Linked DNA regions of Homo sapiens: all the other regions are linked to region 1. Evidence: fine-mapped expression QTL. A gene starts in region 1. Each other region holds a variant in brackets. All regions are shown on one strand. Distances are from middle to middle. Region 1 holds the start of ADGRL1-AS1 (ADGRL1 antisense RNA 1). Region 2 overlaps PRKACA (protein kinase cAMP-activated catalytic subunit alpha). Region 3 overlaps ADGRL1 (adhesion G protein-coupled receptor L1).

Region 1 (2,756 bases):
GCCACAGGGAAACCACGGTGGCTGAAGATCTCCGTGGGTTAAGAAATGGAGGCCGAGAAGGTCTCCCCATGAAAACGGGTACCTAGGAAGAGCTCCAGAGAAAAAAGATGGATGAGGTTCCCCACGCGGGAAATGGGGCTTGGAGGGGGTTAATCTCTATGGGGAGGTCGGGGCGGGCAGTGGGGGAAGAGGCCACTGGGAGGTCCGAGTTAGCTGGCGGGGGGTCTCCACCCGGGAGGTCAAGGCGGGCAGTGGGGGAGGAGGTCACGGGGAGGTCCGTGTTGGCTGGTGGCGGGGGGTCTCCACCGGGAGATCCGGTTGACTGGCGGGCTGGGGGAGATCGGGGTTGGCGGAAGGGGGACGAGGGGTTTCATGGGGGAGATCAAGTTGGCCATGGGAGCGGTTCTCTGAGGGGAGGCCGGGGTCGGCCCGGGGGTGGGGGTCCCCGCACAGGCCCAGCCTCACCGTCCGCCAGGGCTTCACTGCACTCGAAGCTGATCTCGAACCGGAAGGGGCTGTGGAAAGGGCTCGGGTTCTCCAGGACCGCCACGTTCAGCACCGACACCTTGGCCATCGCCTCGCCTCGCCGCGCCGCAGCAGGGGCAGGGGCTGTGGCTGTGGCGGAGGCCGCGCCTGGGTCCGGTGGGGTCAGTGGGGTAGGGCTGACCAGGTCCACTCCCGCCTCTTCTCTCCGAGAACTGAAGTGCGCACCTAGTCCGCGCGCCGCCTTCAAATAGCCGGCCTCCGCCCTCTGGCCAATCACCGCCAACGCTCCCTGGCGGCGCGCGCACCCCCTCAGCCAGTCCTGGAGCGCCGATCGGCGCGCGCCCAGACTCCTCGGACCAATCAGCGGAGCTCCCTCTCCGCAGCGTGTGAGGAGGGCGAAACTATCTCCAAGCTTCTTAGCGTGTCCGCTGGAAACCAATCCCCAGCGTCTCCGACTTGGATGTCAACGGCGGGAATGGACGGAGTCACAGCGCCGGCCTCCTTCTGGCCAATCCTGAGGGTTCCCGCACCGGCGTGGCCCGCCCCTCGCCTCGCTTTTCCGGGAGATGCATCCCGCAGCGCGCAGCGCCGCCACCCGCCGAGCGGTGGCGCGCGGCGCTCGCTAAAGAAGGCGGGAAGGGCGGTGCTCGCACCCGAAGTGATTGGCAGGAGGGAGTGGGGCGGAGATAAAGAGGGTTTTCTGAGAGTTTATTGGCTGGATTGGTAATGGTGGCGGGAGCAGAAGGAGGCTCAGCTGGGGATTCGCTGGAGAGAAGCGGAAGTCGAGCGCCACCGCGGTGTTGGCGAGTGTGAAGAGAGAGGAGGAGCGTTTGCGGCCTCAGCGTCTGTCAACAGGTGAGCGTTTCCTGGAGCTTTTCTGAGTGGCTCCTGACCCTTGAGGTCCAGCGGCGCGGGAGTCCGTTGTGAACGTTGCGAACGTTCGGAGTGGCGGTCACGAGGCGCGCTCAGACCTCGGGAATCCGGCCGGGTTCGGATCCCGCTTTCGCCCCCGAGGGGTTCGGATCCCGCTCTCGCCCCCGAGGGGTTCGGATCCCGCTCTCGCCCCCGAGGGGTTCGGATCCCGCTCTCGCCCCCGAGGGGTTTGGATCCCTCTCTCGCCCCCTTGAGGGCTCTTGGGAGGTTTCAAGCGGACGGTACTGAAAATGGGAGTTCCAGTTCGGGGGCAGACCAGTGTTCAGAGTCCGGGCTCTGCTACTCAGCGCCCGAGGCAGCGCCTCCCCATTCAACGGGGGCCGTGGCAATTCCCTGACATGATTCATGACCACATAATACATCCGGAAACTTCTCTCCACCGCCTCCCGTCTGGGCCGTCGCCCCCGGCCTGGGAGACTCCAGGTCTCAGAGTCTCTGCCCCCACGGGCGATCAGTGCTGCCCAGTGGAAAAATAATGCCAGCCGCGCACCAAAATTAGGTGTAAAATTAACATTTTTTGGAAGCCACTTTTTTTTTTTTGAGATGGAATCTCGCGCTGTCACTCAGGCTGGAGTGCAATGGCGCGATCTCGGCTCACTGCAACCTCTACCTCCCGGGTTCAAGCGATTCTCCTGCCTCAGCCTCCTGAGTAGCTGGGATTACAGGTGCCCACCACCACAACCAGCTAATTTTTTTTCTGTATTTTCAGTAGAGACGGGGTTTCACCATGTTGGCCAGGCTGGTCTCGAACTCCTGACCTCAAGTGATCCGCCCGCCTCGGCCTTCCAGAGTGCTGGGATTACAGGCGTGAGCCACTGTGCCCGGCCATATCTTTTTTTATTATTATTTGTAATTTTAGAGGCTGGTCATGGAGGATTTCTTGAGGCCAGGAGTTCAAGATCAGCCTGGGCAACATAACAAGACCTCATATCTACAAAAAATAAAAGAATAAGCCAGGTGTGGTAGTGCATACCTGTAGTGTCTGCTACTCCTGAAGCTGAGGCAGGAGGATCTCTTGAGCCCAGAATGCTCCAGCCACTGCACTCCAGCCTGAGTGTCAGAGTGAGACCCTGTCTCTAAAAATTAAAATTAAATTTTAAAAAAGAAAGTTCAGTTTAGCTGTCTTGATAGCCGCAGTTGAGTGCTCCTGAGCCCGTGTGACAAGTGGCTCCTGTATTACTGGACAGCGAAGGTCAGAAACACATTTGACCAGGTCACTTCTCCGGATGAGAGCATTGTCTTTGAAACTCTATGCTTTGTCTCCTGTTAACCACCCAGCTCCAACTTCAAACCAGGCTAAGTAACCCTCTTTTTGTTAAAATTCTGACAAGCCACTC
Region 2 (2,756 bases), 40 kb before region 1:
GCCTGAATTTTTTTAAAAGACAGGGTCTGGCTCTGTGACCCAGGCTAGACTGCAGTGATGCAATCACAGCTCACAGCTCACTTCTGGGCTCAAGCGATCCTCCTGCCTCACCCTCCCGATGAGCTGGGAACACAGGGGTGCACCATCACGCCCAGCTAATTTTTAGTTTTTTTTTTTTTTTTTTTTTTTTGAGACAGAGTCCTGCCCTGTTGCCCAGGCTGGAGTACAATGGTGTGATCTTGGCTCACTGCAACCTCCGCCTCCTGGGTTCAAGTGATTCTCCTGCCTCAGCCTCCCAAGTAGCTGGGATTACAGGCGCCCACCACTATACCCAGCTAATTTTTTTTGTGTGTGTTTTTAGTAGAGACGGAGTTTCACCATGTTAGTCAGGCTGGTCTCGAACTCCCGACCTCAGGTGATCTGCCCGCCTTGGCTTCCCACAGTGCTGGGATTACAGGTGTAAGCCACCGCGCCCGGCCAGTTTGTTTTTTTTTTTTTTTTTTTAGAGATGGGGTCTGGCTATGTTGCCCAGGCTGGTCTGGAACTCCTGGCCTCAAGCCTCCACTTCCCAAGGTGCTGGCATTACAGGTGTGAGCCATTGTACCCAGCCCCAAAGTTTCAAAGCCAGTCGGTGGCAGAGCTGGGACTGGGGCCCAGGCTGAGCCTGAGGGTGCTCCCACCACAGTGTCATGACTCCGGGCCAACCAAAAGCTCCTGTGTAGGAGATGCTGGACCAAGTCGGGGGATGGTCGGGTCTTCCCAGCAAGGTGGTTGAGCTGAGGGCAGAGGTGGGGTCCCCAACCTCTCTCCGGCCATCAGTGCCTACAATGATTGCCTACGGTGATTACCTACTCACCAAAGTGTGATCTTGGCCAAGACACATCCCTTTTCCCAGCCTGTTTCCTCACCTCTCCTACAGAGGGTGCCACTATCTCAGGGTGTGACTGATGGGGATTCTGGGGCCTGGTGGATGGTGGGCACTTTGCACCTGTCATAGATGTGAGCTGAGATGGCTTCACCACCCCTCATCTGAACCCTCAGAGTTAGGCAAGTCTGGGTTTGGGAGAGGAAGCATGGGCTATAAATGCTAAGTGAGGGCAATCCTGGGTGAGG[C/G]TATGGACAGCACCTGGGAACAGGAACCAAATACATTCGTTTTTCTGCCTTGGAATTTGCGAAAACTCACACTAACTGGGATGAGGAGCGAAAAGGAGGGTCGTCTGGCAGGGCGGTTTGTGTTCTGTGGCCAAGATGTTCCCGTGAGGCTCGGGATTTTGGAAGCCCATGGGATTCTGGAACCGCGGGGTTGGGGCTGGACAGCAAGGGGGCTTGAGGTGTTGGCCTCAGTGTGGCCGGCGCGTCCAGCTTCACCACCTGGCCTGACTTAAGGAACTTCTAGATTATTCTGACAACAAGCAGGGCTCCCCAGGGAATAGGATGGGTGAGCAGGGAACGGTCTGTTTCTTCCAGGGCTGTGTCCCCACATCCGGACCTCACCTTCCCAGAGACGATCTTCTCATAGATCTGGATGGGCTGGTCTGCGAAGAAGGGCGGGTAGCCAGCGGCCATTTCATAGATAAGAACCCCCAGGGCCCACCAGTCCACGGCCTTGTTGTAGCCCTGGAGCAAGATGGGGGGGCACAGGGTGAGGAGGAGGCGAGAGCAGGAGAGCAGAGCCGGCCTCAGGGGAAGGGGAGGGCTGGGGAGGCTCCTACTTTGCTCAGGATAATCTCAGGGGCCAGGTACTCAGGGGTGCCGCACAAGGTCCAAGTGCGGCCCTTCACGCGCTTGGCGAAACCGAAGTCTGTCACCTGTGGGCACAAGAACAGGCAGTTGGCAGGGAGGAAGGGTCCAGGCCACGGCTTCCCCAGGGCTGCCCCTCGCCCGGCCTGGTGGGCACCTGAATGTAGCCCTGCTGGTCAATGAGCAGATTCTCCGGCTTCAGGTCCCTGTAGATGAGATCCAGCGAGTGCAGATACTCAAAGGTCAGGACGATCTGGGCCGCGTAGAAACGGGCATGGGGCTCACTGATGGGGACAAATGGGGAGGTGAACGTCAGTGGTCATGCCCCAAAATGGTCCAGCAGGTGGCCCTGCAGAGCCTACCCCAGAGGAAGACACCTCCAGTCCAGCCGTCAGAAACGCAAGGCACCTGATTCTTAGATAGCCCGACATGGGAAACAGCCTGTGGGTCCATCCACAGGAAAATGGAATCACAGACTGAGCTATAGTCATACAATGGAATTCCACTCACCACCACCACCGCCAACAGGACAGCCCATGCATCCACTCAACAATGTGGCTGCATTTCAAACTGATTATGTTAAGCAAAAGAAGACACAAAAGAACATGAATGATTCCATTTATATCATGTCCACGCCCAGACAAAACAAAGGCACGGTGTTTGAAGTCAGAAAGGACAACTGCCTTTGGTGGGGAGGTGACGTGTCAAGAGAGGGATTCGGCCCGGTGCGGTGGCTCACCCCTGTAATCCCAGCATTTTGGGGGGTCGAGGTGGGAAGATCGCTTGAGCCCAGGAGTTCGAGACCAGCCTGGGCAATATAGGCAAGACCTCACCTCTGTATGTATGTAGATATGTGTGTGTGTGTGTATATATATATATATATTTTTTTTTGATTAATTTATTTTTTTTAAGACAGTCTCGCTCTCTTGCCCAGGCTGGAGTGCAATGGCATAATCTCGGCTCACTGCAACCTTTGCCTCCTGGAAACAAGTGATTCTCTTGCCTCAGCCTCCTGA
Region 3 (2,756 bases), 49 kb after region 1:
CTCAACCTCCCAGACTCAAGGAATCCTCCCACCTCAGCCTCCCAAGTAGCTGAAATCACAGGCTTGCACCACTACCACCAGCTAATTTTTATTTTATTTATTTATTTATTTATTTATTTATTTATTTATTTATTTTTTTTTCTGAGACGGAGTCGTGCTCTGTCCCCCAGGCTGGAGTGCAGTGGCACAGACTCAGCTCACTGCAAGCTCCGCCTCCTGGGTTCACGCCATTCTCCTGCCTCAGCCTCCCGAGTAGCTGGGACTACAGGCACCCACCAACACGCCCGGCTAATTTTTTGTATTTTTAGTCGAGATGGGGTTTCACCGTGTTAGCCAGGATGGTCTCTATCTCCTGACCTCGTGATCCGCCCGTCTCGGCCTCCCAAAGTGCTGGGATTACAGGCGTGAGCCACAGCGCCCAGCACCACCAGCTAATTTTTAAATTTGCTGCAGAGAGGAGGTCTTGCTATGTTGCCCAGACTGATCTCAAACTCCTGGGCTTAAGGGATCTTCCTGCCTGGGCCCCCCAAAACTTTGGGATTACAGGAGTGAGCCACTGTGCCCAGTCCAGGACTCGGTTCTAACTGGTTTCTTCCTGCCTTATGGCTGCTCCTTCTCACCTCTCTCCCCGCCTCAGTCTCCCCAAATCCTCTCAGGCTTGCACGCTCAAATGTCTGTCCTCAGCTCTTTGCTTTATCTACACCCTGGTTCTCCAGGTGTGGTCCCAGCACACTGGCATCAGCCTTGCCAGGAACTTGGTAGAAACACACATTCTCTCTCTCTCTTTCTTTTTTTAAGAGACAGGGTCTTGCTCTGTTGCCCAGGCTGGAGTACAGTGGCACAATGACGGCTCACTGCAACCTCCAGATCCTGGGTTCAAGTGATGCTCCTACTTCAGCCTTTCGAGTAGCTGGGACCACAGGCTCTCGCCACCACGCCCAGCTAATTTTAAAATGTCTTATAGAGACAGGATCTTGCTATGTTGCCCAAGCTGGTCTTGAACTCCTGGCCTCAAATGATCCTCCCACCTCAGTCTCCCAAAGTGCTGGGATTACAGGCGTGAGCCACTGTGCTGGCCAGAAACACACATTCTCTGAGGCAGGCCCTGAAG[C/T]GTGGGAACCCCTGCTCTGTCATATCCAGCTGTCATCCCAGCCTGTCCCATCTCAGGCTGTCCTGGGCTCTCAGTACCATCATTGAGCCAGCACTTTCAAATCTCTTATGTCCAGCCTGGAATCTCTCATCAGAGCCCCCACTACCATTTCCCTGCTGAAAACCAAAACCCTTGTAATTGGCCCAGTTAGCTCCCTGACCCCATTTCTGCTCCAGCCACTCCTGCTATTCCTGGACCACAGCAGGCCTTGCCCCAGGGCCTTTGCACCTGTTGCTTCCTCCACCTGTAGCTTCTGCCAACCCACTGTCCACATGGCTGGCTCCTTCAGGCCTCTGCTCAGATAGAACTATTCACCTGGTGTATAGAATGTCCTCTTCATGGGGCAGGGATCATTGAACTGTTTTGCTCATGGTGGCCGTATCCCCAACTTTTATTTACTTTTATTTTTTTAGAGATAGGGTCTTGCTCTGTCACTCAGGCTGGAGTGCAGTGGTGAAATCATGGCTCACTGCAGCCTCCACCTCCCAGGCTCAAGTGATCCTCCCGCCTCGGCCTCCCTAGTAGCTGAGACCACAGGTATGCACCATCACATCCAGCTAATTTATTTTATTTTGCAAAGATGAGGTCTTGCTATGTTGCCCAGGCTGAACATGAACTTCTGGCCTCAAGAGATCCTCCTGCCTCAACATCCCAAAGTGCTGGGATTACTGCGTGAGGCCATCACCACTGTTGTCTTCATATCCTCAACTTTTAGAATAGGCCTGGCACGTGGCAATGAATTAATTATTTGTTGAATGAATCTCAGATCCCAAAGCTGAGACTCTGCCTTGATTCCTCACCTTCCCTGTCATCCCCCTCACGGAAGCCATCAGCAACTCCTGTGGGCTCTGCCTCTGAAGTACCTCGCGACCTGCCCACTTCTGGCTCTAAGCACAGCACCCAGGCCCATGCACCATCCTATGTCACCTGTATGTTGTCCTGGCCTCCTTGCCCGCCTCCCAATCCGCCCTTCACTCAGAGCTAAGGGACCACATGATGATGTTGATCCGAACATTAACTGACCCCCTGGTCTCTGCTGGGGTCTCAGTTCCTCACTAGAGCCCAGAGGCTGTGGGTGAACTGGTGCCACCAAGCTCTCCAAGCCCCATTCTGTCCTCCCTCCTGTTCCTGAAACATTCAACATTCCAGTTCCAGTCCCCAAGCAGGATCCCTGCATGTCGGCTGCGGCTGCTCATTGTTCAGGGCTCAGCCGCAAGGTCACCCCAGCAGAGTGACCTACCCTGACCCCCTGCAAACAAAACAGTCCTCGCCTGCTGCCCTCACCCGCCATCCTTTTCCCTGTTTTTAATTCACAGCTCTCAAGTGAGCACCTGAAATTACCTTTTTATCAACACGAGCTTCTTGAGAGAGGCCCTTACAAATCAGCACACGGCTGGGCACGGTGGCCCGTGCCTGTAATCCCAGCACTTTGGGAAGCCGAGGCGGGTGGATCACCAGAGGTGGGAGTTCGAGACCAGCCTGGCCAACATGGTGAAACCCCATCTCTACTAAAAATACCAAAAAATTAGCCGGGCGTGGTGGCGGGTGCCTGTAATCCCAGCTACTCGGGAGGCTGAGGCACGAGAACTGGTTGAACCTGAGAGGT

Evidence for each region.
Region 2: its variant is fine-mapped to the expression of ADGRL1-AS1 in whole blood (TOPMed, PIP above 0.99).
Region 3: its variant is fine-mapped to the expression of ADGRL1-AS1 in whole blood (TOPMed, PIP above 0.99).

Annotation. Positions count from the first base shown.
Region 1 is chr19:14,135,883-14,138,638 of GRCh38, forward strand. ADGRL1-AS1 (ADGRL1 antisense RNA 1) reads left to right here and starts at 1,270. Exons shown (of 3, transcript NR_045214.1): 1 at 1,270-1,341. It overlaps ASF1B (anti-silencing function 1B histone chaperone), which reads right to left and starts at 707. Exons shown (of 4, transcript NM_018154.3): 1 at 466-707. The coding sequence starts at 574. RefSeq lists a silencer at 473-522 and enhancers at 853-992, 1,070-1,696, 1,193-1,352.
Region 2 is chr19:14,095,867-14,098,622 of GRCh38, forward strand. It overlaps PRKACA (protein kinase cAMP-activated catalytic subunit alpha), which reads right to left. Exons shown (of 10, transcript NM_002730.4): 6 at 1,898-2,024; 7 at 1,713-1,808; 8 at 1,495-1,617. Among named protein-coding and RNA genes, the nearest start is that of SAMD1, 6.5 kb to the left of the region's middle. The variant C/G (reference allele first, on the strand shown) is at 1,114.
Region 3 is chr19:14,184,515-14,187,270 of GRCh38, forward strand. The region is part of intron 1 of ADGRL1 (adhesion G protein-coupled receptor L1); the gene reads right to left. Among named protein-coding and RNA genes, the nearest start is that of ADGRL1, 20 kb to the right of the region's middle. The variant C/T (reference allele first, on the strand shown) is at 1,112.